Homo sapiens: one gene and its partners. The protein of the gene in region 2 interacts with the protein of the main gene of each other region in a pairwise test. Each region holds a gene or a part of one and is shown on either strand. Other genes may lie near its edges.

Region 1 (3,500 bases), about 17 Mb from region 2:
TTAAAACAAGTGAGGGCATTTCTGCCACAAAAGGGCAGTTCAGTCCAGATACCCCCTGCAAGCCAAACTCAACCAACTGGTGGCTCCTGTATTCCTGGGTTTACTGTCCAGGAAAAGTGGCCCAAACCAAAAAGCACTGGGGCACCAACACGAGGCAGCCGCCTCCGTATTCAGCCTGATAATAACATGAAAAAGCCAAAAAAGGGAACAAATACAGAACACTGAAATGTGTCATCATTTCAAAAATGAAACGACATGGTCACTTTAACATTTGTTACAAAAAGAATGCATGACAATCTCAGAATAAAGGACAGATGTTTCAATTGGACATGTTGGTCTTTAAGAAAACTTTCCTATTTTCTCATTCTCTCATGGACAGGTGAAGACAAGACGGTGTTTCATCAGCCAGTGTTGCAGAACTCGGCCCCTCTCAGGCTCTGCACGTACCCCATCCCCCGACAAAGCCTAGCTCTCCCTCTCTTTCTGATTCATGGGAACTACCTAGAGTTGCGGAGTCTTCTGACTCCAGAAACCTGTGTCCTGGTGGCCATCCCAGGAGAAACAACTTTGATCCTGACCCCAAGAGCTGCTGACCTGGCCACAACTTCTCTGTCAAGGGCCTCACTTAATGCCTGGAAATCCCACAAGTGAAAATGCTCAGGAAAATTCCATGGCCCAGTGCCGAGCAGTCTTGAACCGCACAAGCCGTGACTAAGTAACTATCTAAAACAGCTCTCCCTCCCGCCCCAACACCACCCAGAGTGGGCGTCAACATCAGCAATTGTCTAGGGAAAATAAGCGGGCCCTCTTTTCTAGAAAGAACCCATTTCAGAATGTTTGAAGAGAAAAATCAACACCCACTGTCTGGGGCCACATTAGACAGATTCAACTGGGCACGGCTGTCACGCCCTGGCCCAGGATCTGCTAAGGGGTAGTGAGTTCTCTGCCTACTCCTCCTCTTCTCTGAGGCCTGAGTCTGCACGGGGCTGGCTCCCCGGCTTCTGGGCAGGTGAGAGGGACACTTTGGGGCTCTCCGCCCCCAGTTTCGGCAGCTCTGCCCCGGCTCAGGCACTCCCCTGTGACATCAGCATCTTGGGGGGTGAATCACTGCCGCAGCTCTGAAGCTGCTGTGGCCATGCATGGCTGTCGGGCTGTGATGAGTCCGGAGGAAGCCACGCCCCTCACACCAGCACAGGTCGGCCTTGAAGGGCGCCAAGGCCTCCCACCACGTGATGTCTGGAAACTTTTCACAAGTGGGGGTATCTGCTGAGCGGGGGGAAGTGACGCAACAAATAACGGGGAGCATGGCAGTGGCAACAGGCATGAGCCACAGCGCACCAGCCTCCGAGCCACAAGTTCAGCGTTGCTGCTGCTGCCAGAGGCCCAGAAACAGCTGTTCCCTCCCCCTACACATCCCCGCGCAGGCTTTGGCTCTCTCAATGACATTCCTAAATGGCTGTGGCTAGAGCCCTAAGTGTAAGCACTGGAGAGCCAGGGCCAGCCCCGAAATCAGGAGGTAAGGCCCTGGGGCAGCTGGCCCCGCACCAAGTGCACCAAGTGGCTGGCAGCAGCACACGGCCACCTGGAGCAAAGCACAGAGGCCTTTCTCTCCTGTCCTCAGTCCCTGGAAGCAGCAGGTTCCTATCTGTGACCTGAAGGAACGCAAGGGAGAATCGTGGCTGCGCTGCTCCTATGCACTGGACATGGGGAGGCACCAATGTCCAGCTTGTGGATCAAGACCTGAAGGGCACAAAGGGCAAGGTGGGTGCAGAAGGAACCAAAGGCAGGGGCGAGGTGGGCCCAGGCCACGGCAACCCTAGAGCTGTCTTCTCCTGGCTGTGGAAAAGGTCACGTGAGCACACAGGTGTGTGGGTGGCAAGCCCTGGGCCTCAATTGCTAGTCACCCCCTACATACCCAGGAGCCCCAAGTGCAGAAGAGGGGAATACCAGGGCCCACACAGGGCAAAATCCTCAACTGGCTTCAGAAGCAGCCCATCTGGAACTTGCAAGTGAGGCCCAACCCTTCTCTCCAGGCTGTGTGCCTGGCTTCCTCACCTTCCCCAGGAGCCAACCCGAAACTTGAGCCACCCAGGTGCTAAAACAACCTGGGGAGCATCAGCTGAACCCCCAGAGGTACAAAGAACCCTCTAGCAGGAAAACCATCTGACTTGCCGGGAAGAGACATGTGAGGAGACTCCTAGCCAAGGGGAGGGACAGGATCAATCCCCTTGTGTGGGCCCAAGGCTGGGATGAGCCTCCCTGTGGCCATGTGCCCTGGGGCTTCCTGGCAAGCGCAGCCCCGCCCAGCCATACAGCTGTCCTGGGACTGGATGGATGGATGGATGGGTAAGCTAGATAGATTAGATAAGACACATTCGCTAGATAATAAAATAGTAAAGGCCCCAAGGACAGGGTGGGTGGTGGCCCAGCCCCCCACATACCACCACCCGCCAAGAGAGCAGCTGTGTGCCCATGAGCAACATTTTCCACCGTGCTGACTGCACTTTTCCAATGCAAGATGCCCGCCCAGAAGTGGGCTCCTCCCACACACGGGTGTTAGGAGGAGAAACAGAGGCGTCTATAATCCTCTGAGGCTGCCCCAGCAGAGAAACGCACCAAAAGGGAAGAAAACAGGAGAAATGATAAGAAGGGGGGAGGAAGAAGTGAAGATGGGCAAAGTAAGGGAAGGAAAGGAGAGAGAAGAAGGAAGGAAGGAAGGGAGAGAGGGAGGGAGGGAGGGGCCCTGTACCCACAGAGAGATCAGCAGCAGCTGAAATGCGCTTACCAGTACAATCTGGGACTGGCCTCCCAGGGGTGCAAGAGCAGCTCGAGGGGGCCAGGAGGGGGCGGACTAAGTGCTAAATGGTGTTACCCGCAGAACTGTGTCACTGTGGACTTTACAACCGAAGCCCCACCCTCACAGGGCAAGTGGAGCTCAGGGTCCCCCAGGCTGTTCCCCAGCCGGGAAGCTTTAACAGCCCCTCTCTCAAGGCCCGTGGCGAGACGGAGGCATGGCCGGCTGGGTCCTTCCCTCTGAGGGGCTGAGCTAGAACTAGGCAGTCCCCCACCTCCAACCCACGTGAACTGCTCTGGAGGGATCACCAGCCTGTATCCTAGTTCCCCTCTTATCTATTCCTCAGCGACAGGAACCCAGCAGGACGGCCAGGCTTGGAGGGACATAGGAAAAGGGTTTGGGAGCGAAGGGGTGTGCAGGTCCTAGGAACATATCCCCTCCTAAGTACGTGCTAGGAGGTGCTGTCTGGGGAGACGTTAACCACAGTAATCAGATCAACAGCCAGCTGCTCCCCATCGCCCCCAGATGTGCGGGAACACAGGGTGAAGAAATACTGTTCCCACCAGGCAGCCTGCCCCACCCCACCCTTGGAATACGGTGCCCATCGCTCAAGCACAAGTGTCAAGGTCTGTGGTCTTGTCTTCACCTTGCGTGATGGGCGATAAATATGTGCACTAGTTAAAGCAACTTCTAAGGAAGATCCTAA
Region 2 (3,500 bases):
TACCTCTTGGGTTCAAGCGATTCTCCTGCCTCAGCCCCCCAAGTAGCCGGGATTACAGGAACATCCCACCATGCGTGGCTAATTTTTATATTTTTAGTAGAGACAGGGTTTCACCATGTTGACCAGGCTGGTCTCGAACTACTGACCTCAGGTGATCCGCCCGCCTCGGCCTCCCAAAGTGCTGGGATTACAGGCATGAGCCACAGCACCCAGCGAGGTGTTTTGTTTTGTTTTGTTTTGAGACAGAGTCTGACTCTGCCCTCCAGGTTGCAGTGCAGTGACGTGATCTCGGCTCATGGCAACCTCTGCCTCCCGGGTTCAAGCGATTCTGTCTCTGCCTCTGGAGTAGCTAGGACTACAGGTGCGGGCCACCATACCCGGCTAATTTTTGTATTTTCAGTAGAGATGAAGTTTCACCATATTGGCTAGGCTGGTCTCAAACTCCTGACCTCATGATCGGCCTGCCTCAGCCTCCCAAAGTGCTGGGATTACAGGCATGAGCCACGGTGCCTGGCCCCGGCCAGGTATTTCTTTTTATCAATGAGAGCATGGACTAATACAGGGACAATAATAATACCTATAGCTTACAGAGCTGCGAGATGGAGAATATTAGAAGCTAATCCAAGAAACGTGCTTATAACAGTGCCTGGCTTATAACAAGCCCTTGATAAATGTCAGCTATTATTATTATTATTAATTATCTAAACATTTAAAAACACTGCTTTCAATGAGTACAAAATGTAAACATTTTAGAGTTTTATTGCCACACATTTTCTTGTCTTATACAAATGGGGATACAGAAAGGAGGCTCACGCCTGTAATCCTAGCACTTTGGGAAGCTGAGGCGGGTTTATCACCTGAGGTCAGGAGTTCAAGACCAGCCTGGCCAACATGGCAAAACCCCATCTCTACTAAAATACAAAAATTAGCCGGGCATGATGGCGGGTGCCTGTAATCCCAGCTACTTAGGAGGCTGAGACGGGAGAATCGCTTGAACCCTGGAGACGGTGGTTGCAGTGAGCCGAGATTGCACCACTCCACTCCAGCCTGGGCGGCTGAGTGAGACTCTGTCTCAAAACAAAAACAAAAACAAAAACAAAAAATGTGGATACAGAAAAAAAAAATGTTTTTTGACTGGTTTCATCATATTCATGTACCTAGAGAGAGTGAGAGCGATCATTTCAAAACTACATGTGTACCTGGGAATAGCAACCCTCGACTCCAACTAGTCAATTGCAGACCTCACCTTAAGGAAGGATTATTCTTTTTTTTTTTTTTTTTTTTTTTTTAATTTGAGACGGAGTCTAGCTCTGTCGCCCAAGCTGGAGTGCAGTGGTGCAATCTCGGCTCACTGCAACCTCTACCTCCCGGGTTCAAGTGATTCTACTGTCTCAGCCTCCTAAGTAGCTGGGATTACAGGTGCCGGCCACCATGCCCAGCTAATTCTTGCATTTTTAGTAGAGATGGGGGTTTCACTGTTTTGACCAGGCTGGTCTCGAACTCCTGACCTCATGATCCACCTGCCTCGGCCTCCCAAAGTGCTGGGATTACAAGTGTGAGCCACTGCGCCTGGTCTTTTTTTTTTTTTTTTTTTTTTTGCTTTGTTTGTTTTTTGTTTTAGACAGAATCTTTCTCTGTTGCTCAGGCTGGAGTGCAGTGGTGAGATCACAGCTCACTGCAGCCTTGACCTCCCCGGGCTCAGGTGATCCTCCCACCTCAGCCTTCTGAATACAAGTGTGTGCCAAATTATTCTTGAGAAACCATTTTTGCCTTTTTTTCTTTCTTTTTTTTTTTTTTTTTGAGATACAGACTTGCTCTGTCACTCAGGCTGGAGTGCAGTGGCCTGAGAATGAGATCTATAACCTAAAATAAGATTTGCAACCTAAAAGTTTATGTTTTAATGTTGCTGAGTACAGTGGCTCGAACCTGTAGTCCCAGCTACTCAGGAGGCTAAGGCAGGAGGGAAGATCCCTTGAGCCCAGGAGTTCGAGGCTGCAGTGAGCAATGCTCATGCCACTGCACTCTAGCCTGGGCAACAGGGCAAGACTCCATCTCTACTAAAAAAAAAAAAAAAGAAAGAAAAGAAAATTTGTTTATACTTAGAATACTACTCTAATGTATATATTTAAAAAGTCATGGATAAAATTATGGCTTAGTTTGGTTTGCTGAGGTATCTTCTGGTGATGAAAAATACATTGCAGATTTTGGAATAAAACTTCCCCCAGCCGGGCATGGTAGCTCATATCTATAATCCTAGCACTTTGGAAGGCCCAGGCAGGAGGATCACTTGAGCCCAGGAGTTCGAGACCAGCCTGGGCAACATGGCGAGACCTCATCTCTACAAATAATTAAAAAATTAGCCAGGTGTGTGGTAGTATATGCCTGTGGTCCCAGCTACTCAGTAGGCTGAGGTGGGAGGATCACTTGAGCCTGAGAGGCTGAGGCTGCAGTGAGCTGTGATTGTGCCACTGCACTCCAGCCTGGGCAACAGGGCAAGACCCTGTCTCAAAAACAAAAACAAAAAACTTCCCCCAGATATTCTGGAACTGTAAGAATTTTATGTTGGACCTAGTCCAACAGCGCCAGGGAGACAGAGGGAACTGAAGGTGATATAAGGCATCCGCTATGCCCTCCGTGTTTCACATGCTGCTGAGAGCCACAGGATTCAAAGCAATGGAGGTTTTCTGAAGGGTCAGAAAAACAGCCGAAAGAAAACAACTTCATCTTTTGATACAATCATTAATTTTACATTGTTCTGAACTCCACAGAAGTATATTTTCCTTTTTTAAATTCTTGAGACAAGGTCCCACCAGCCTGGAGTGCAGTGGTACGATCTTGGCTCACTGCAGCCTTGGCCTCCGGGGCTCAAGTGATCCTGCTTCAGTCTCCCACATAGGTGGGACTATAACAGTGTACCACCATGTCTGGCTCTTTCTATATTTTAACAGAAAAATCTTTTATTTATTTATTTATTTTTTTTTTTGAGACAGAGTCTCACTCTGTTACCCAGGCTGGAGTGCAGTGGCATGATCTTGGCTCACTGCAACCTGCCACTCCTGGGTTCAAGTGATTCTCATGCCTCAGCCTCCTGAGTAGCTGGGATTACAGGCACGCACCACCACACCTGGCTAATTATTATATTTTTAACAGAGACAGGGTTTCGCCATGTTGGCCAGGCTGGTCTCAAACTCCTGGCCTCAAGTGATCTGCCCGCCTTGGCCTCCCAAAGTGCTGGGATTACACGTGTGAGCCACTGTATGTGGCCCTTTTACTCTATTTTTATGAGAAGGGCAGATACTCAAATTGGCAGGTGAAACGCATTTTATTCAAGACATATTTATTGAGCAACTACTCTATACCAGACTATACCTGGTCCTGAGAATATAGAGGTGATGAAATGTCAAAGGTCAGTGCTCACTTTCAAGCAGCTCACTGTCTAGTAGGAGAGAGAGAGAGTCAGAGAAGAGACAGGAAGAGAAGAGACTTCTAGACAAAGTGAC
Region 3 (3,500 bases), on a different chromosome or scaffold from region 2:
ATTACAGGCACACACTACTATGCCCAGATAATTTCCTGTATTTTTGGTAGAGATGGGGTTTCACCATGCTGGCCAGGCTGGTCTTGAACTCCTAACCTTGTGATCTGGCCGCCTCGGCCTCCCAAAGTGCTAGGATTACAGGCGTGAGCCACCACATCTGGCCTGCTTGTTTCAGTCTTAAGAGGAACGACTTCATTGTTCATTCACAGGTAATTTATTCACCTAGTTTGCCCTCCTGCAACGAGTCCTCAGCATTATTGCAGGAGTATAATGCAGACATACATTCAAACAGGAAAATCTCACACATTCTGTGGTGTGTGCAGTACAGCACTGTGTGGACTCTCTCATTGTACACCTTTGTTGTTACAGAAAACACAGTAAGAGCCCCTGCCAAAGCCTCTCTTTCTGATTACACTTAAAAAAGGTTGATTCAGGCCAGGCAGTGTCTCATGCCTGTAATCCCAACACTTTGGGAGGCTGAGGTGGGCGGATCATGAGGTCAGGAGTTCAAGACCAGCCTGGCCAACACAGTGAAACCCTGTCTCTACTAAAAATAGAAAAAATTAGCCAGGCATGGTGGCAGGCACCTGTAATCCTAGCTACTTTGGAGGCTGAGGCAGGAGAACTGCTTGAACCTGGGAGGCAGAGGTTGCTGTGAGTGGAGATCATGCCACTGCACAGTGAGACTCTGTCCGAAAAAAAAAAAAAAGTTGATTCAGTGTTTGCTTACGTACAAGGTGGAAACTCCCTACTACAGGGCTCTTCATTCCAATCATGTTCTGAATGCATTCACAGGTTCTCTCTGTGGTGTCACCCCCATGTTTGCACATTTCATTCCAGTGTGTGTGTTGTCATGTCTGGTACAGACTGAATCATCCCCAAAGACTTTTCTGCCCTCATCCTAAGTTGTCTCTGGAGTTCCCCAATGAGCAGACTTAACAGTGTGGCTCAGCAATGTCTCACATTCATCAATTCACTGGATAGCTTAAAGGATTCTTTTCTACTGACCAGAGAGGAGTCAGATCTAAGACACGCCTCCTAAACACAGGAGTGAGAGTGAACTGGAAGACTCATGTGGCCCCCAACCATTATGTTTCCATGGGTTGCTCTCCCAGGTGTGCTCTTTGATGTCGAACAAGGGATGAGCTCTTTTGGAACATTTTTCCACACTGAGGACACCGGCTGGGACCCTCCCTGCTATGGAGTCTCTGATGTACTGCCAGGTGAGAGTTCTGCTTGAAGGACTTCCCACATTCTGGACACTGATATGGGGTCTCCTTAGTGTGAATTCTCTGGTGCTTGGTCAGACAGGAGCTGTCCCTGAAGGCTTTGCCACACTGATTACACTCATAGGGCTTCTCACCAGTATGAGTCCTCTGGTGCCTAATGAGGCCAGCGATATTCCTGAAAAGTTTCTGACACTGGTTGCAGCCATAGGGCTTCTCGCCAGTATGAATCCTCTGATGCCTGATGAGGTACGCACTCTCGATGAAAGTCTTGCCACATTCTTTACATTCATAGGGTTTCTCCCCAGAATGGATCTTTTGATGCACAATGAGGTGAGAGTTTCTGTTGAAGGATTTCCCGCACTCTGCACACTCAAAGGGCTTTTCTCCAGTGTGAGTCCTCTCATGCTGGGTGAGGTACGAGCCGTCCCGGAAAGCCTTTCCACATTTGCTACACTCATAGGGCTTCTCACCGGTGTGGATTCTGAGATGCACTGTAAGGTGGGAGATGTCAGTGAAGGGTTTCCCACATTCGTTACATCTATATGGTTTTTCCCCTGTATGAGTTCTTTGGTGCAAAATTAAGGATGAATTTCGGTTGAAGGTTTTTCCACACTCTAGGCATTCATAAGGTTTCTCGCCTGTGTGAATTCTCTGGTGCTGTGTCAGAGCTGAGCCATCACTGAAAGCTTTCCCACATTTACTGCATTCATAGGGCTTCTCTCCTGTGTGGATTCTTTGATGCACAATCAGGTTGTAGTTCTTGGAGAAGGACTTTCCACACTCATTACAAGTATAAGGCTTCTCTCCGGTGTGAGTTCGGTGATGCAAAACAAGAGAAGAGTTCCGTTTGAAGCATTTGCCACATTCAGTACATCTATATTGTTTCTCTCCAGGGAGATTTCTCTGGTTTTCATTAAGCGATGAGCTCAGAGTAAAGATGTTCTCAAAATTCTTACCTTCATACGATTTCTTGCCTCTTTTCATTATTTTCTGATGACCAAGAGAGGTAAAATGATTAAAAGACTTAACACTTTCAGGGTATTTGTAGGGCTTCTCTCTCACTGGATTTCTTCCATGAATAACTTCCATGGAATGGTTGAAGCCTTTTCCACAGGCATCACTGTCACCAGTTCTCTTATCTGCATAACTTTTAGGATAGCTGGGTAAGGCGGGGTCACAATCCAGACCACTAACATTTGAGTCAGGTGCATGGAAACCATTTGTTGCCAGAACTCTCTGAGACGGTGGAAGGTCTGAGCTTGCAATCAAATGCTCCCCAAAACCAGGATATTCACAAATTGCTTCCTGAGTCCCTGGTTTCTCCAGAGTTAAAGCTGATTGCCTCAAGTGTCCCTCCTGGTTCTCACAGTCCCAACCATCACCTAAACTGGACAAGCAGGGAACTTCCCTTGTGAATCTTTCCACTTCTACATCACAGGGTACTTCTCTCTCAGGAAAATTCCGAGTCGTCATTTTCAATCTCATATCCCAAACTGCAAAAAGAAGAAAAATGCAGACTTAGGTATATGAAGCTTTATCTGTAAGAGAAACAGACAATGATGATGGGCTAGGTGTAAAGATGTGTATTTTTTTACTTGTTTTCTCTTTTAAATTCAAATTTATACAAGGAAGAGGTAAAATCGTAGCCAAGGAATGGAACCAAGAACAGATTCAAAAAGAGCCATGTAGCATTTTCATCTTCCTAGAGAGCAGGCAGGAGGAATGGACCTCGGGATAAATCATCACCAAAAGGATTAGTTTGAGATGTGAGAGACCAGAGGCCAAGCATCCCTGCTCCCCCTAGAATTCCATCCCAGCCACTGCATTCTTGTCCCTGTCACACACTGCCCATCAGTACACATTTCCAAAGCTCTGACTTCACAATGAGCTTACAACAGCACTGAAGGAACAGTTCTCACCCCAGCTCTGTCATCAAAGTTCTGCATTCATGGATAGGACAAAGCACAGGCTTGGTGACCTAAAAGTTCTGGGTCTAAGTCTTAGAACTGTCAATGACCTGGCGGGGCACAGTGGTTCACTCCTGTAATCCCAGCACTTTGGGAAGTGGAGGCAGGTGGATCATTTGAAGTCAGGAGTTCAAGACCAGCCTGACCAACATGGTGAAACACCGTCTCTACTAAAAATACAAAAAAAATCAGCCAGGCGTGGTGGCACATGCCTGTAGTCCCAGCTACTCTGGAGGCTGAGGCAGGAGAATCACTTCAACCTGGTAGGCAGAGGTTGCAGTGAGCTGAGATCACACCACTGCAC
Region 4 (3,500 bases), on a different chromosome or scaffold from region 2:
CTCCTGGATGGGAGAGAAGACATGGCCCCAGGCCCAGAGAAATGAAGTGCTCAGGAGGACATGACCCGACCGAGTACGCGATGAGAGACGGCGAGGACTTGGTGAATCCCAGCAGGCAGGGACTCAGAGAGTGGGAGGGTGAAGAGTCATTAAGATGGCAGGTTTGGGTGTGTGAGCAAATGGAACTGACACCCTCAACAGATGAAGAGAAACTGGAAGAGTCTGCTCTAGGGGGAATGCGAGCAAACACGGCGCTTGCCATTTCCAAGCTCTGCGGGGCCTGCCTCCCAGCTCCAGAGGCATGCACTGCTGCCACAGGATCTACCATGCTGTGTGAGACAGTCGTGCCAGTGACTGTGCCCTGAAGAGCTGCGCCCTCACGCCCTGGAGCAGCTTCCATCTGATCTACCTCTGGAAGCCCAGGGCACTGCACATGGCGGTGAATAGTTACCTTCTGTTTCAGAAAGAATAGGTTCCCACAAGCCATTTTCTAGAAAACATTAGGTCTCTAGGTTTCTTTGTGTCCCATGCCCAGCACAGCACCTGGCCCATGGGAGGGTAAAACAAACGTTTCCTCAAGGACTGAATGCCTATGTGTCCAAATGACCTTAATGGAGGTCAGCTAAAGGTAGCAGTCAACACAGGGAACAAAACTTGTTTCATCTTTTTTTCCAACATCCTACAATCTACAGTCCCAACAAGAATGAGGAGACCTAGTTGTCTTCAGCCTAACCCAGCACAATGTGCAGCCTCCAGGTACGCCAAGCTCAAGGTGGTTCACTGTGAACTTCATTCATGAAACGGAAGACATATGCTAAGTTTGGACTCATCCTTAGCAAGGCGAAAAAAGTATTGTAAGAATTCACACATGAAAATGCTATTTTTCTCTCAAAGAACTAGAAATCTGTTTTCTTGAAAACGATTTATCCTAATTTATTCTGAAGTCTTTAAGTTACAGACATCATTAGAGGCTTCTCTCACAAGTACAAAAGTATGTCTTATTTCCAATAAAAAAACACTGTGTTGCAGGTTTCCAATTATTAACAATAAATAAGAGTATTCCCACCTGAGAGAAATGTTTCCCACAAATGTTACATTCAAAAGGTTTCTCACCTAAAACAAAACAAAACAACAACTTGTAAAATCATTACTAGTATTTGTTCAATAATTTTTTGTTTAAATGACCTCCTATGTACTTTCAAAATGGCATTACATTCTGCATCCTAACAGTATGAAAATAGGGAGTGTCTACTTCCTTATATTTCTCTCTTGCCTTTATTTCTACACAGAGATGATAAAAGTAATATTTTCCTCTAAAAACTTAAACTGTTCTCCAAACAAAACTTATGTTAAAATCAATGTATTTATTTGCATCCAGAGCAGACCCACGTTCTGGAAGTGGTCTTTTCCTGTGGTTGAGTTTTCCTGCTGAACAGCACGATCCCGCTCACCTATTCTTCAGCCTGATGCCACCCAACCACCAATCCTAACAGACACAGGGTCACTGGTTCACACCACACAAGGTATGAGCACAGAGAGCCCCAAACACAGTGGGTCGTCCTGAAGCATGAGTGTGAAAAGGAAAGAGCCCCTCACCACAGTCTTCCTGCCTTGGTTCTCACGAGAGAAAGTAAGATTTCATTTTGGGAGATGTGCTCCTCTGCGGACTTCTTTATCACCTCTAATTTCAATAACTAAGTAACTGCGCTTGGGGACAGAACAGATTCTAAGAATGGTACTCTACTACAAAAAAACCACAGCTGTTCTGAAATGTGGCCTACAGAACATGATCTGAATTTAAAAGCACACTCCATGGTACTGCCTTTAATCTATATAACGCTAATGAATAGACTTTGAACACTAAGAACCTCTCATTTTCTCCATTTCCCTGAAATCAAATGGTTTCATTAAGATCTTCTTTAAAAAGTAACAATAATGTTTTCCCTTCCTACTATATCGTTGGGGCTTGCTACCTTGAAGAAAGCAGCTTGCTAGCTTTCTGGGCTCATTCTAGGATATTTTAATTTTATTTTATCCTGAAAATGTCTAATGGCTTCCTTGACCCTGAATAATTATATTTATATTAATAATAAATTAATAATTACATTAATTCTGTATTGCAATAAATGAAACTACATTTATGTCTGAAATTATTGGGGGTGACAGATAATAAGTTAAAGCCCCCATAAGAAATATAAGAATTTGAAAAGAGAGAGAGGTCACCAGTTACTAAGACTAATAAATGACCAAGGTTAACAATCCTACTCCAGTAGGCCTCAGACTTTTTGGCCTCAGGACCCCTTCACCTTAAAATTGAGGTCCTAAAGAGCTTTTGTTAATATGGGCTATAGCTATTGATATCTACCATACTGGAAATGAAAACAGAGTGACCTTTAGAACAGGTAAATACACACTTCACAGGCCACCAGGGTGAGGACTTCATCACACATCATGTAGCTTTGGGCAGACTAACTGTACACTCATAAGAGGAGGAAAAAACAACTAACATCTTAGACAATTTTGAAAATAGTGTTGGCCTCACAGACCCCCAAAAAGGGTTCCCCAGACCATACTTTGAGAATTGCTGCCCTTCTCGGTAGAATATTTATGTGCCAGTAAGCATCTTTGCCATGACTGTATCTGTCATTCAAAGAGGTTCTCCCAGAATAAACAATTTTTGATTCCTTTAAAAGCTAAGCAGGTAAGTTTCACAATAAAAAATTACAGCCATCGGGCCAAGCGTTGTGGCTCATGCCTGTAATCCCAGCACTTTGGGAGGCCGAGGTGGGCAGATCACTTGAGGTTAGGAGTTCAAGATGAGCCTGACCAACATGGTGAAACCCTGTCTCTACTAAAAATACAAAAAAATTGGTGGCGCATGCCTGTAGTCCCAGCTACTCGGGAGGCTCAGGCAGGAGAATCAATTGAACCCAGGAGGCAGAGGTTGCAGTGAGCCGAGATTGTGCCACTGCACTCCAGTCTGGGCAACAGAGCGAAACTCTGTCTCAAAAAAAAAAAAAAAAAATTGCAGTAATCATTAGGCTGTAGGAGATTTAGGCAAACAGAATCATCTAAAGTTTTTTCAGGGCAAAACTAAGTCTGTGATATTGCCTTCACGTGGAATAATTTTGAACTACTAGTGATAATAACAGTACTTTATATTCAAATGCACTAAAATGTATAAAGGGCCTTCACAATTATCAAAGAAATCTCCCAATAATACAAGGTCGTAAAATGCAAACTGTGAATCCATAGTGATAACAGAAGGTCACATCAACAAACACAATTACACAAACACCGTAAAAGCAGCTGCTGTGGAAGCATCCTGTTGCATGTTACTTCTCATGCCTATAAGGTAATTGTTGTTCATCTGTAATGTGCTATTAAACTCATGTTTAATTATAGGAAGAAAAGTAATATATATGTATTGTATAACATAATGTGTGTGTGTGGAGATATATATATAGAGAGAGAGAGAGACACACACACAGAGAGAGAGA
Region 5 (3,039 bases), about 82 Mb from region 2:
GCTCTCTAAATTAATTAAAAGCTGCAGGCGAGCAGAGAGATATTCTATTACATTAGAATGTTCTTTTTTTAAAAAAAAATGTTGAGGCTGCAATAGTATTTTCCCATGGCTTTGCCAAATTGTGTTTTACGATGGTTAGCAGGATTCTCTACTGGTGGGTGACAGCATCGTACTTCCCAGATGTGTGTGGCCCACTTCCCTAGGGGAGCTTCAGCATCTGCAGGGGTTGCTTGTTGAGCTGAACAGCTGAGGGAACAGCGGAGCCCTGTGCGCCAAATGATCTCCGAGCCACAAGCCTGACAAAACACAGGTGGATTCCAGCCTGATGAGGTACACAGGTATTCCTTGGACAGAACAAAAAACAAACAAGCCGTTCTGCTCTACCTCTGATAGAAGGGAAGTGGTTATCCATGTGAAGCAAAGATTGAGAAGAAAAGCTTTGAGATGTCCTGTGCGTGTGTTGACTGCTAAACCCCAGGAACATAAAATGACAAGAGAAATGGGCAAGAGACAGAGATTTAATTGAATAAAAACTCCAGGCTGTGACACGGGTGGGAAGACACAAACGAGTAATTAACAACATAATATTTTAAATGACAGTGCAATTAATTAACGTCCTGGGTAAGCGCAGAGGGGGAGGAGGGCGTCTTTCAGCCCGGAAACACTGCTAAATAAAGGAGAAGGGAACTTTTCATGTTTTTTAAAAAAACCTATGTGCAAATGGCCCTGGTTATCACAACTTCATCAAAGCTCACAGCAACAACCCGAGAGGTTTCTCCGGCCAGAGAAAGCCAACAAATGGATCAACTTTGTATTTCATTTTCTTCTTCTCTGTGAGGGAAGAGATACTGGGCTAGATAATGAAGTTGGCAGATGTTCAGGTTTCATTCATGATTCAGGCTGAGGAGTAGTCTACCTTGAGGGTGCTGGGGATGAGGCTGCAGGAGATAAAAGCCTCCCTGGGGTGGGCTCCCAAGCCTGTAGGAATTGACCCAGACTGCTAGAGCAGCAGCGGTTGCAGTTGGCCAGGGTGGTGTGGGGCTGGCTAGAATCTGTTCAGGACATGATTTTCTGAAACCACTGGGATGTTCACTCATGGGAGATAGCTGCTTGGATATAAGAGGAATGTCTCAGATGAGCAATACTATTGTGATTCACATTGATCACACTCCCTTCTCCAAGAGGTTAGAATGGGTTATACTCACCTGCCTAAGGGTTTAACGATGACAGCTGGACATGAATTTTGAGTTCACTTCCAGAAGGACCTTCTCACACTAATTTCTGGACTCCTTATGACCCAGGGAACTCAGTTGTCTCCTTTGTAATGGCAAGGCCTTCAGCATCTGTTCACTGACGGAAACGACTATCTTGATGGGGTCAGTCTAGAGTCAGAATCATAATGAAGTCTGTCACCTGCCAGGAATCTTGTCATGACCTTGGGTTTTTTCTCACTCTCAGGAGAACACCCAAATGTAGGACTACCAGACTAGGAAGGCCTGTCAATGACAAGATATCTGGGGAGAAAAGTCATCTTTACACATGAGTCCCTAGCCTAAGGCTCAGTACAGGGTGGAGTTTAGGTTTATCTACATTTACTTTTCTAAGCAGAAAATTCCTTTTGCCACAATATCCTGTTAACTCATGCCCAACCTGGTCATTTTTAGGGCTAGAAGATACTATGCAGCGTTCTATCAGCAGAGAAATCTGACAACTTGGTTTAAAATGAGGGATACTTTATTGGTCGCTGCTCCTCTACCATGTAGCATATATAAAGAATAAGACACAGGTGTGTGAACAGATTTTCTGTTCTTGATTTTCCACTGTTAAAAGAAGGGGTTCTTCAGCAGACTTGCCTCTTGCAAGTAGTACACACAGCTCAGGAAACTGGCACTGTGTCGCCACAAGTCGAAGTAGAAACTCACCTCCATGCGCTTACTGGGGTTATACAAACTGAGATTGAGCAAATCAACCTGGTTTTAGGGGTTGGTGGGAAGACCACTATTAACTCAACAGAAATGTGCTATTACAACACAGAATAGTTCAAACAATTTTTTTTTTCCTAAACTGAGTTTGGCCTAAGGTAAAGATCTAAAGGAAACAAGAAACCCTCACAACCACTGAAACAAACAACACTGAAGTACTTAGTAATTTATAGAACTAAAGTTTAAGATGAATATTGTCAAAGAGCCAAAGGGGCTGAAATAGGCTTACGCTGACTCGGTTTCAATCAAAAACATACTCTTCATAGAAAGATGGACTCAAACTGCTATTTGGATTTCAAAACTCCCCATTTGGAAAAGAACATTTAATCTAGGTTTTTCTTTAATCTGTTTAGGCATTTTAAACAGCAGCTTGATACTTCATGGAATTATAAAGCTATGTATAATGCAGAAATCATTCCAGAACATATGTTTCTCTCTTACTTTACAATCAAGATTATTTCTGAGGACAAAGATCCTGTTTTCAAACAAATGTGATCATTAACTGTGGCGCATCAGAAAACATATGGCGTGTTTAGTTTCGGCTGAACTGAATCATTCCTAAAGAAAGTGACTAAGTTCCCATGAGGAATCAAGACGTTTTCAATTCATGGGGAAAGCCAGCGAGGAAGGGGAGCGAGGAACCCTGCACATCAGCTGAAGGCTCACAAGCGCCTCAGAGGTCTTGTGATTTCAACACGGGACTGAGGGTCCCAGCGTGGTTTATGTCCTGCCAGCGAAGAGCTTCAAAGACTAGTAATTCACCTCACAAAGGCTCTTCCATGGATTCACCCCATTCCTGCAGGGCACTGAAAATGCAGCCGCAGTCCCACCACGCCTCCTCCTTTTCCAGGGTTGTGGAGCTTGCTGGAGACGCAGCATTTCAGAAACTCAATCCACCTCTTTCCAAAAAACTGTACCTTGTATTTTCTAGAACCAACTTCTGGGCTTTCCACCCTTTGTCTTTTCCTACTCTTTTTTTTTTTCCCTTTTCTTACCAGCAGACCCATAAAAAGTGAAAAACCACAAAAACATCACCTTGGGAGACACAAAAGACTAA
Region 6 (3,500 bases), on a different chromosome or scaffold from region 2:
CTGTGCCGAACTCAACAAAACGTTTCAGTCTTCAGCTCTCTAGACCTCTCTGCTTAATGCAACTCTGTTGATAACTCACTTTCCTGGCTTCCATGACACCTCTCAGCTCTCCTCCCACTCTGTTTCTTCTCCATTTCCTTCATGAACTCTTCCTCCTTTGCTTAGCCCTTAAATATCTTGTTATTTGGGATTCCATTCTTTGCCCATGACATTTTTCAATGTCTAAACATTCCCTTTGGGCCATTAAATCCATTCTGATCGCCTGAACTACAATAAATTGTGCTGATATCTTTCAAATTTGTCTAACCAAAGTTTCACTGACTAATTGTCTACTGCAGTTGGATGGCATGCTAAACTCAGTAAGAACAGAAGATAAAGCTATCCTCTTCTTCTACAAAATCTACTTCTCCTTGTATAGTATTGAACTGAGTTATCTGGAACAACCAACCACCCACTTAAACCAAGTCAGAAACTCAGGATGATGTTACCTCACATATTCAAGCCTACCATTTTCATTTTTAAAATATTTATTAAATATACCATAGAGTGAATACATGATTACCATACGAGCCTACCTCTATCCCTGGCCACTACTGATTAGTTCAAACGTAGGTACCTGACCCAATTCACATCAACCTGAGCCATTCCACAGGAATCTGAAATCAGGTCTAAATGGGCTTATCTAAAACTAAGAAATGGGAAGGCATTGGGAGAGGCCATTTCTGTCATGAGAAATAGAAATCAGCAAAAATTTTTTAAAAACTAGAACTCAGGGTAGGGGAAATGAAAAATGGCAAGAAAATTGCAAAAACCATTCACAATTCTAATTCCAGCTATTCTTGAAGCCTAGCTGCATTCCTACATCTATATGTCTTATGAGAATTTTGTACTTTAATAATAAATCCTTTTTGCAAAATCCAATTTATATTTAGTTTCTGTTACCTGCAACCAAAATACCAACTAATATTCTCTTCTTTGATCCTTAAAGTAGCACCCCAGGCTGGGCGCGGTGGCTCACGCCTGTAATCCCAACACTTTGGGAGGCCGAGGCGGGTGGATCATGAGGTCAGGAGTTCGAGACCAGCCTGGCCAAGATGGTGAAACCCCATCTCTACTAAAAATACAAAAATTAGCCAGATGTGGTGGCGCATGCCTGTACTCCCACCTACTTGAGAGGCTGAGGAAGGAGAGTATCTTGAACCCGGGAGGCGGGGGTTGTGGTGAGCCAAGATCGTGCCATTGCACTCCAGCCTGGGGGACAAGAGCAAAACTCCGCCTTAAAAAAAAAAAAAAAGTAGTAGCCCTAGATCAGATCTTATCTCTCACCTAAACAACTGATTCCAGGAGACCTAATTAATCTCCTGGACTCATCTTTCCTGCTCCCCTTCTTTCTCCAACCCCTCACCCCAAATACATTTAGAGTAATATAAAGGGAACATCTGACCACCGTACTTCTCTTCTAGGGCTTCCCATTACAAAGACTGCTAGTTATCCCTCTTCTTTCCTACCAACAGAATCCCATTTTATTTGGAGAAGTAATGTACTTCCCATGCTAGAAAGTGAAGCCTTATGATCAAGTGTCCAATTAGATGTAAACAAAAGTATTTTATGGGACTTTCTGGAAGTCAAGTTAAGAAAAAAAAGAGCATCTTCTTTCCTGTTATCTGGACTAAGAGGCAATGCTGTAAGGATGATGGAAAAGCAAGACAATAGAAGCCTAGGTCCCAGAAGACCATACTAGCCCTAGACTGTCTACCTGACTTATTTCATATCAGAAAAAAATGAATTTCTATCTTGTATAATCAATGGCTATTCTGAGATTTTCTAATAAATGCAGCTGAACCCAATTAGATGATACATTCCCTACTGAATAAAGTCAAAGCTCTTGGTTTACAAGGCCCTATTAATTCTTACAGTTTCATCTCCATTCACCCCCTCCTCTTGTTTTATAATTTAGTACTATCAAATTGCTTATAGTTATATTTACATACATACACACATACTCACACTCATATTATCTCATACTTCCATGTCTCTGCTCTCGCAATTCCTTATGCATGAAATGCCAAGCACACCTTTATTTGCCTAATGCTTACTAATCTATCTAGTCTCAATTCAAGCATCATTTAATCAACAAGTTAGCAAATGAAATCCCTCTTAATACCCTGTACTACCATGGCATCATGTTGGATGGTATGCTAAACTCAGTAACAACAGAAAATAAAGCCAACATCTTCTTCTACAAAATCTACTACAAAATCATATTATTAATATTATGTATCTATTTATCCAATTAGGAAATGAGTTCCCCAAAGGTTTAAAAATATATTTTTATATTCCCCATGTCTAGAACAGTGTCTGGCAAAGAATAAGCATTTGATAAATGCAAGCTGAAATTAAATGAAATGTCTTTTTCTACTCTTTCAATAGCACTAGTCAGAAACTTTTAAGCAGCAACCTATACTCATTTTCACAATTATGCACTCACTCACCTTACCACTTCAGCAAAATTGATGCTCCCCATGCTACGACTTCAGTTCTCTTGCTAATTTTAGTTTCAATCTCCATTTTACCTTGAACTCATTAACTATCAAGCTTAATACGCCTCCTGACCTAACACAGCCTTCAGGGCTCTCCTTCTCTTGTGCAGCCTGCAGAATTAACCACACCTCTAATTCTATCTAGTGGTCAAAACCTAGAAGGTGGAACTAAGACAGAAAAGTGCTACCAGCAAAACTCAAGGGATCTTGAGGACTTCTGCTTCTGTCCTTGACAAAATAAATGGCATCAAACTAGAAATACATACAAATTGGAATAAAAATGAAACTACAATCTCTACAGCTTTTTATCTAAAGGCACTTTCTAGACTGTGGCATAGAGGGGTAACCCAAGCAGAACATGAAAATCTCACTGAGCAAAGGAAACGGAATTTGAACTTTGTGAAGGCTGAAACAAAAGTACAGATGGGAAGTTACACAGAGAAAGGGTGCCAGAAATCTACTTAAAGGACCCCTGGAGTCTTTAAAGAAAGACCAAGCTGAACATGCTGAGGATGAGAGTCCACAAGGTCAGGCAAAGAAAAATTACCATGGAGAAAACAATTACCAAAGAGCTGTAAGCAGAACAATCCCCAGAGCTCACAAAGGGCTGGAAGACATTCTAGTTCCTCCCAACCAGAATAAAGAAACCTCGCTGAACATCCATGACAATCAGCAGAGAACCCACAAAGGTCATGCCTTAGTAGAAAGGCTAAACCAGTCCTAGAGTAAAGCTATTCTAGGTGCATACGAACAAAACTTAAAAACAATCCTTGAAAAGGATTAAGCTAATTCACAAGTAATTAACTGTATGCCAAAAGGAAACTCAATACTCTCTGAAGAAGTCAACAAAATCCAGCAGTCACAATATAAGTTTCATAGGGTTCAGCATCCAATTAAAAGTTACTAGACATTCAAAGAAGCAAGCAAATGTGACCCATATTCAAGAGAAAAATCATTTAA
Region 7 (3,500 bases), on a different chromosome or scaffold from region 2:
CGCCATTCTCCTGCTGCAGCCTCCCGAGTAGCTGGGAATATAGGTGCCCGCCAGCACACCTGGCTAATTTTTTGTATTTTTAGTAGAGATGGGGTTTTGCCATGTTAGCCAGGATTGTCTCAATCTCCTGACCTCGTGATCCACCTGCCTCGGCCTCCCAAAGTGCTGGGATTATAGGCGTGAGCCACCGTGCCCGGCCTCTGAAGACTGATTTTTTAAAAGTTGTTTTCTTTAAGTTACCCCAAGTAGTACAACATTGTCCTCTTGTATGCTGATTTTAGCGTATTAAAAAAAATACCATATCTTCTGAGAAGCCTCCAGTGGGAAACAAAAATACCACATCTATAACTACTATTTATAATTGACTCTTCTGAATTTTTATTTTGAGAGAAGCTAAACAGATTATTTTCTAGAGTCTTATCAGATTGGATCTATAATTTTCTGTAGCAAATTTTTTCATTTTGCATCTGTTCCAGACAGTAGGCTAAATTTAAAACTGTGGTTGGCAGCCTTTTATGCATAGTATCATAAATAATTTCAACTGTTTCTCAACTGAGAACATAATAAAAATTTTATATTTATGGAGAAAATGGGGTTTTATCTCTTTAGTTGCTTCAATTAAAAGAACTGAAAGGGTAGGGCACGGTGGCTCATGCCCATAATCCCAGCACTTTGAGAGGCCGAGGCGAGTAGATCACCTGAGGTCAAGAATTCAAGACCAGTCTGGCCAACATGGTGAAACCCCGTCTCTACTAAAATACAAAAATTAGCTGGGTGTGGTGGTGTGCGCCTGTAATCCCAGCTACTTGGGAGTCTGAGGCAGGAGAAGGCAGAGGTTGCAGTGAGCTGAGATGGTGCCACTGCACTCCAGCCTGAGTGACAGAGTGAGACTCCGTCTCGTAAAAACAAACAAACAAACAAAAAAACTGAAAGGTATGTAAAGGGAGTGAGGGAGAAAGGCCAGTCAGACCCTTCTAAACATGATCTGTATGTTGAATAATTACAGCATTTTTTCTTCTTTGCTTTGTTGTCATCCTAAAGTCCCGGTCACCCATGGGAGCTACTGCTTTTGTGCCCACAGAAGCAGCTACCCTGAAAGTCCCTCCTACCCCCTCCCATGTCCTCTTACTCCCTCCCAAAGTCTTGCCCCACTGTGAGGAGGGCTTCTCCCTGGCTCCTTGATAAGCCACTGAGAACTTTGTCCCTGCCCCCATTTCCTCTATTTCCCTGCCTTCTCTCCACTGGCAGTCCTTGGAGCCACACTGCAGGAGCGCAGCTGGAGGGAGAGCATTGGGCTGTGGTTGCCTGGTTTACAGCAGGTAGAACCGTGTTCCTCTTCATCTCAGTTAAAACTTACAACTCAGGAGGCTCCTTATAGAAATACTTTGTAAAGGGTTGTTGGGTTCTATCCTATTATACCTTTTGTTGGTTGATCTGGGAATTGAACCATCCTTTATCAAATGGATTAAATAACATTTATTTTCTGACAGTTTGGTCTTGCTCCCTCTCGTTCTTAAAATATCACTGGGGAAAATGTACATAGCCCACAAATAACCTATAACTCATTCTATATGCATAGCCCATAATTAATGTATAACCTAACTAGGTGGACTCTTTAAGAAGCAGCATTTTGGATCAGTGTCAGCTTAATTTGTCTTTCAGCTCCAGTCACTATATATCAAGTGTTTTCTCCCCACCAGGCTGATTTGAACACCAGCTTTTCTGGGGTGGATGAACATGCACCGATAAGCTATGAGGACTTTGTGAACTTTCCTGATATTCACCACTCTAATGAGGAGTATTTCAAGAAAGTAGAAGAGTTGAAGGCTGCCCACATAGAAACTATGGCAAAATTAGAGAAAATGTACCAGGATAAATTACATTTAAAGGAAGTTCAGCCAGTGGTCATCAGAGAAGACTCTCTTAGTGACTCTTCCAGGTAAGCTTGTAACTCAATGTTATTTGTGGAGTATAAAATAAAATGTATCCTTAAAAGGACAGAACAAAGTTACTTCATAATATTTTCTCTTAAATAGCCCTTTGTACTCCCAACGATATACAGAGGTAGGATTTTATTCAAAATGTTTAATGGCTTATCAGCTTACTGGATGACCGTTTGCTTGAGGGTCATTTGGTGGCCATTTGGTCTTTTCTTTCTGACCCACCCATAGAACTGAGGGCATGTATCAAAATACTTAGTCTGTGCCATTTTAACTGGTAAATATAAAAGTTTAATTTTAAAAGCTCTTTATAATATGTGGATTAACATGAGCTCATTAAAGATCTAGTACAAAGAGTTCAGGACTAGGAGACATGAATCTGATTTATGTTTTCAAAATAGTCTGCAATTTCAAGACCCATTTCTGCTGTGAACTCACCTGCTCTGAGACTTACACATCTAGTCAGTCAGCGATGCTTGCATGTCTCCTTTGTGCCAGACTATGCCTGGGCGCTGAGGAGTCAAAAACAAGATGCCCTCAAGGAGCTTAGAGACTAGCTGAGAACCAAAAATTGCATTACAGCATGATGTAACAGAGTGTTACAGAGGAAGAAGCAGTTGGTCATGCCAAGCTTTCAGAGGGATGCAGGCCAGAATTTTCCACTAAAGTGTCACATCTGAGTTCAGTCTTGGAGGAGGAATAAGTATTGGCCTTCTAGGCAGCAGAAACCATGTATGCAAAGGCAAGATGGCATGAGAAATCATATCGTGTGTGAGGAACTTCACAGGACTGGATATGAATGCAGAATGGAGACTGGGGTAGCCAGTGGTGAGGGGTAAGACTGAAAAGATAGGCGCCAGTCTCGAAGGGCTTGTAATCTAGGCTTGACTTCGTAGCAGTGAGGAATTATCAAAAAGTTTCAAGCAGGGGAATGACATGATCAGATCTATGCTTCAGGACAGTGACTCTGGAAAGTGGGGAGAATTTAATAGAGGTTAGACACAAGGACCCTCTGCCATCTCAGGTTCCTTCCCTGTAAAATGAAGGAGTCAAAGTGGATAATTTATGGGCATTGCCCAGCTCTATTCCAAATAAAAGTGATGATTCTTACAAGCCCTGTCCAGCTCCTCGCTTCTGATTATACCCTGATCTTAGAAAATATGTAACTCTTGGCTGGGCACAGTGGCTCATGCCTGTAATCTCAGCACTTTGGGAGGCGGAGGCAGGCAGATCACGAGGTCAGGAGATTGAGACCATCCTGGGTAACTTGGTAAAACCCTGTCTCTACTAAAAATGCAGAAAATTAGCTGAGCATGGTGGCACAAGCCTGTAGTCCCAGCTACTCGGGAGGCTGAGACAGGAGAATTGCTTGAACCTGGGAGGTGGAGGTTGCAGTGAGCCGATATCACACCACTGCACTCCAACCTGGGCAACAGAGTGAGACTCTGTCTCAGAAAAAAAAAGAAAATATGTAACTCTTAATTTTTATATTTGGTCACATACAACTGAAAGTATAACATAGTTATTCTTCTCATTTAGATCTGTATCAGAAAAGAACTC

What was found.
Region 1: the proteins of ZBTB8A (region 2) and ZBTB17 interact in binary tests that used the Homo sapiens proteins (3 or more experiments, as listed by UniProt).
Region 3: the proteins of ZBTB8A (region 2) and ZNF329 interact in binary tests that used the Homo sapiens proteins (3 or more experiments, as listed by UniProt).
Region 4: the proteins of ZBTB8A (region 2) and ZBTB49 interact in binary tests that used the Homo sapiens proteins (3 or more experiments, as listed by UniProt).
Region 5: the proteins of ZBTB8A (region 2) and SYT6 interact in binary tests that used the Homo sapiens proteins (3 or more experiments, as listed by UniProt).
Region 6: the proteins of ZBTB8A (region 2) and CWF19L2 interact in binary tests that used the Homo sapiens proteins (3 or more experiments, as listed by UniProt).
Region 7: the proteins of ZBTB8A (region 2) and FAM161A interact in binary tests that used the Homo sapiens proteins (3 or more experiments, as listed by UniProt).

Annotation. Positions count from the first base shown.
Region 1 is NC_000001.11:15,948,602-15,952,101, forward strand, and holds part of ZBTB17 (zinc finger and BTB domain-containing protein 17), read right to left. Parts: intron 1,762-3,500; exon of another isoform or gene 1,330-1,761; intron 1-1,329. UniProt on the Homo sapiens protein: Transcription factor that can function as an activator or repressor depending on its binding partners, and by targeting negative regulators of cell cycle progression.
Region 2 is NC_000001.11:32,545,927-32,549,426, reverse strand, and holds part of ZBTB8A (zinc finger and BTB domain-containing protein 8A), read right to left. Parts: intron 1-3,500. UniProt on the Homo sapiens protein: May be involved in transcriptional regulation.
Region 3 is NC_000019.10:58,126,790-58,130,289, forward strand, and holds part of ZNF329 (zinc finger protein 329), read right to left. Parts: intron 3,323-3,500; exon of another isoform or gene 3,149-3,322; intron 2,723-3,148; coding exon of another isoform or gene 2,715-2,722; coding exon 1,089-2,714; 3' UTR 1-1,088. UniProt on the Homo sapiens protein: May be involved in transcriptional regulation.
Region 4 is NC_000004.12:4,303,751-4,307,250, reverse strand, and holds part of ZBTB49 (zinc finger and BTB domain-containing protein 49), read right to left. Parts: intron 1,114-3,500; coding exon 1,067-1,113; intron 1-1,066. UniProt on the Homo sapiens protein: Transcription factor. Inhibits cell proliferation by activating either CDKN1A/p21 transcription or RB1 transcription.
Region 5 is NC_000001.11:114,088,792-114,091,830, forward strand, and holds the end of SYT6 (synaptotagmin-6), read right to left. Parts: 3' UTR 501-3,039; downstream 1-500.
Region 6 is NC_000011.10:107,444,326-107,447,825, forward strand, and holds part of CWF19L2 (CWF19-like protein 2), read right to left. Parts: intron 1-3,500.
Region 7 is NC_000002.12:61,840,561-61,844,060, reverse strand, and holds part of FAM161A (protein FAM161A), read left to right. Parts: intron 1-1,700; coding exon 1,701-1,939; intron 1,940-3,479; coding exon 3,480-3,500. UniProt on the Homo sapiens protein: Involved in ciliogenesis.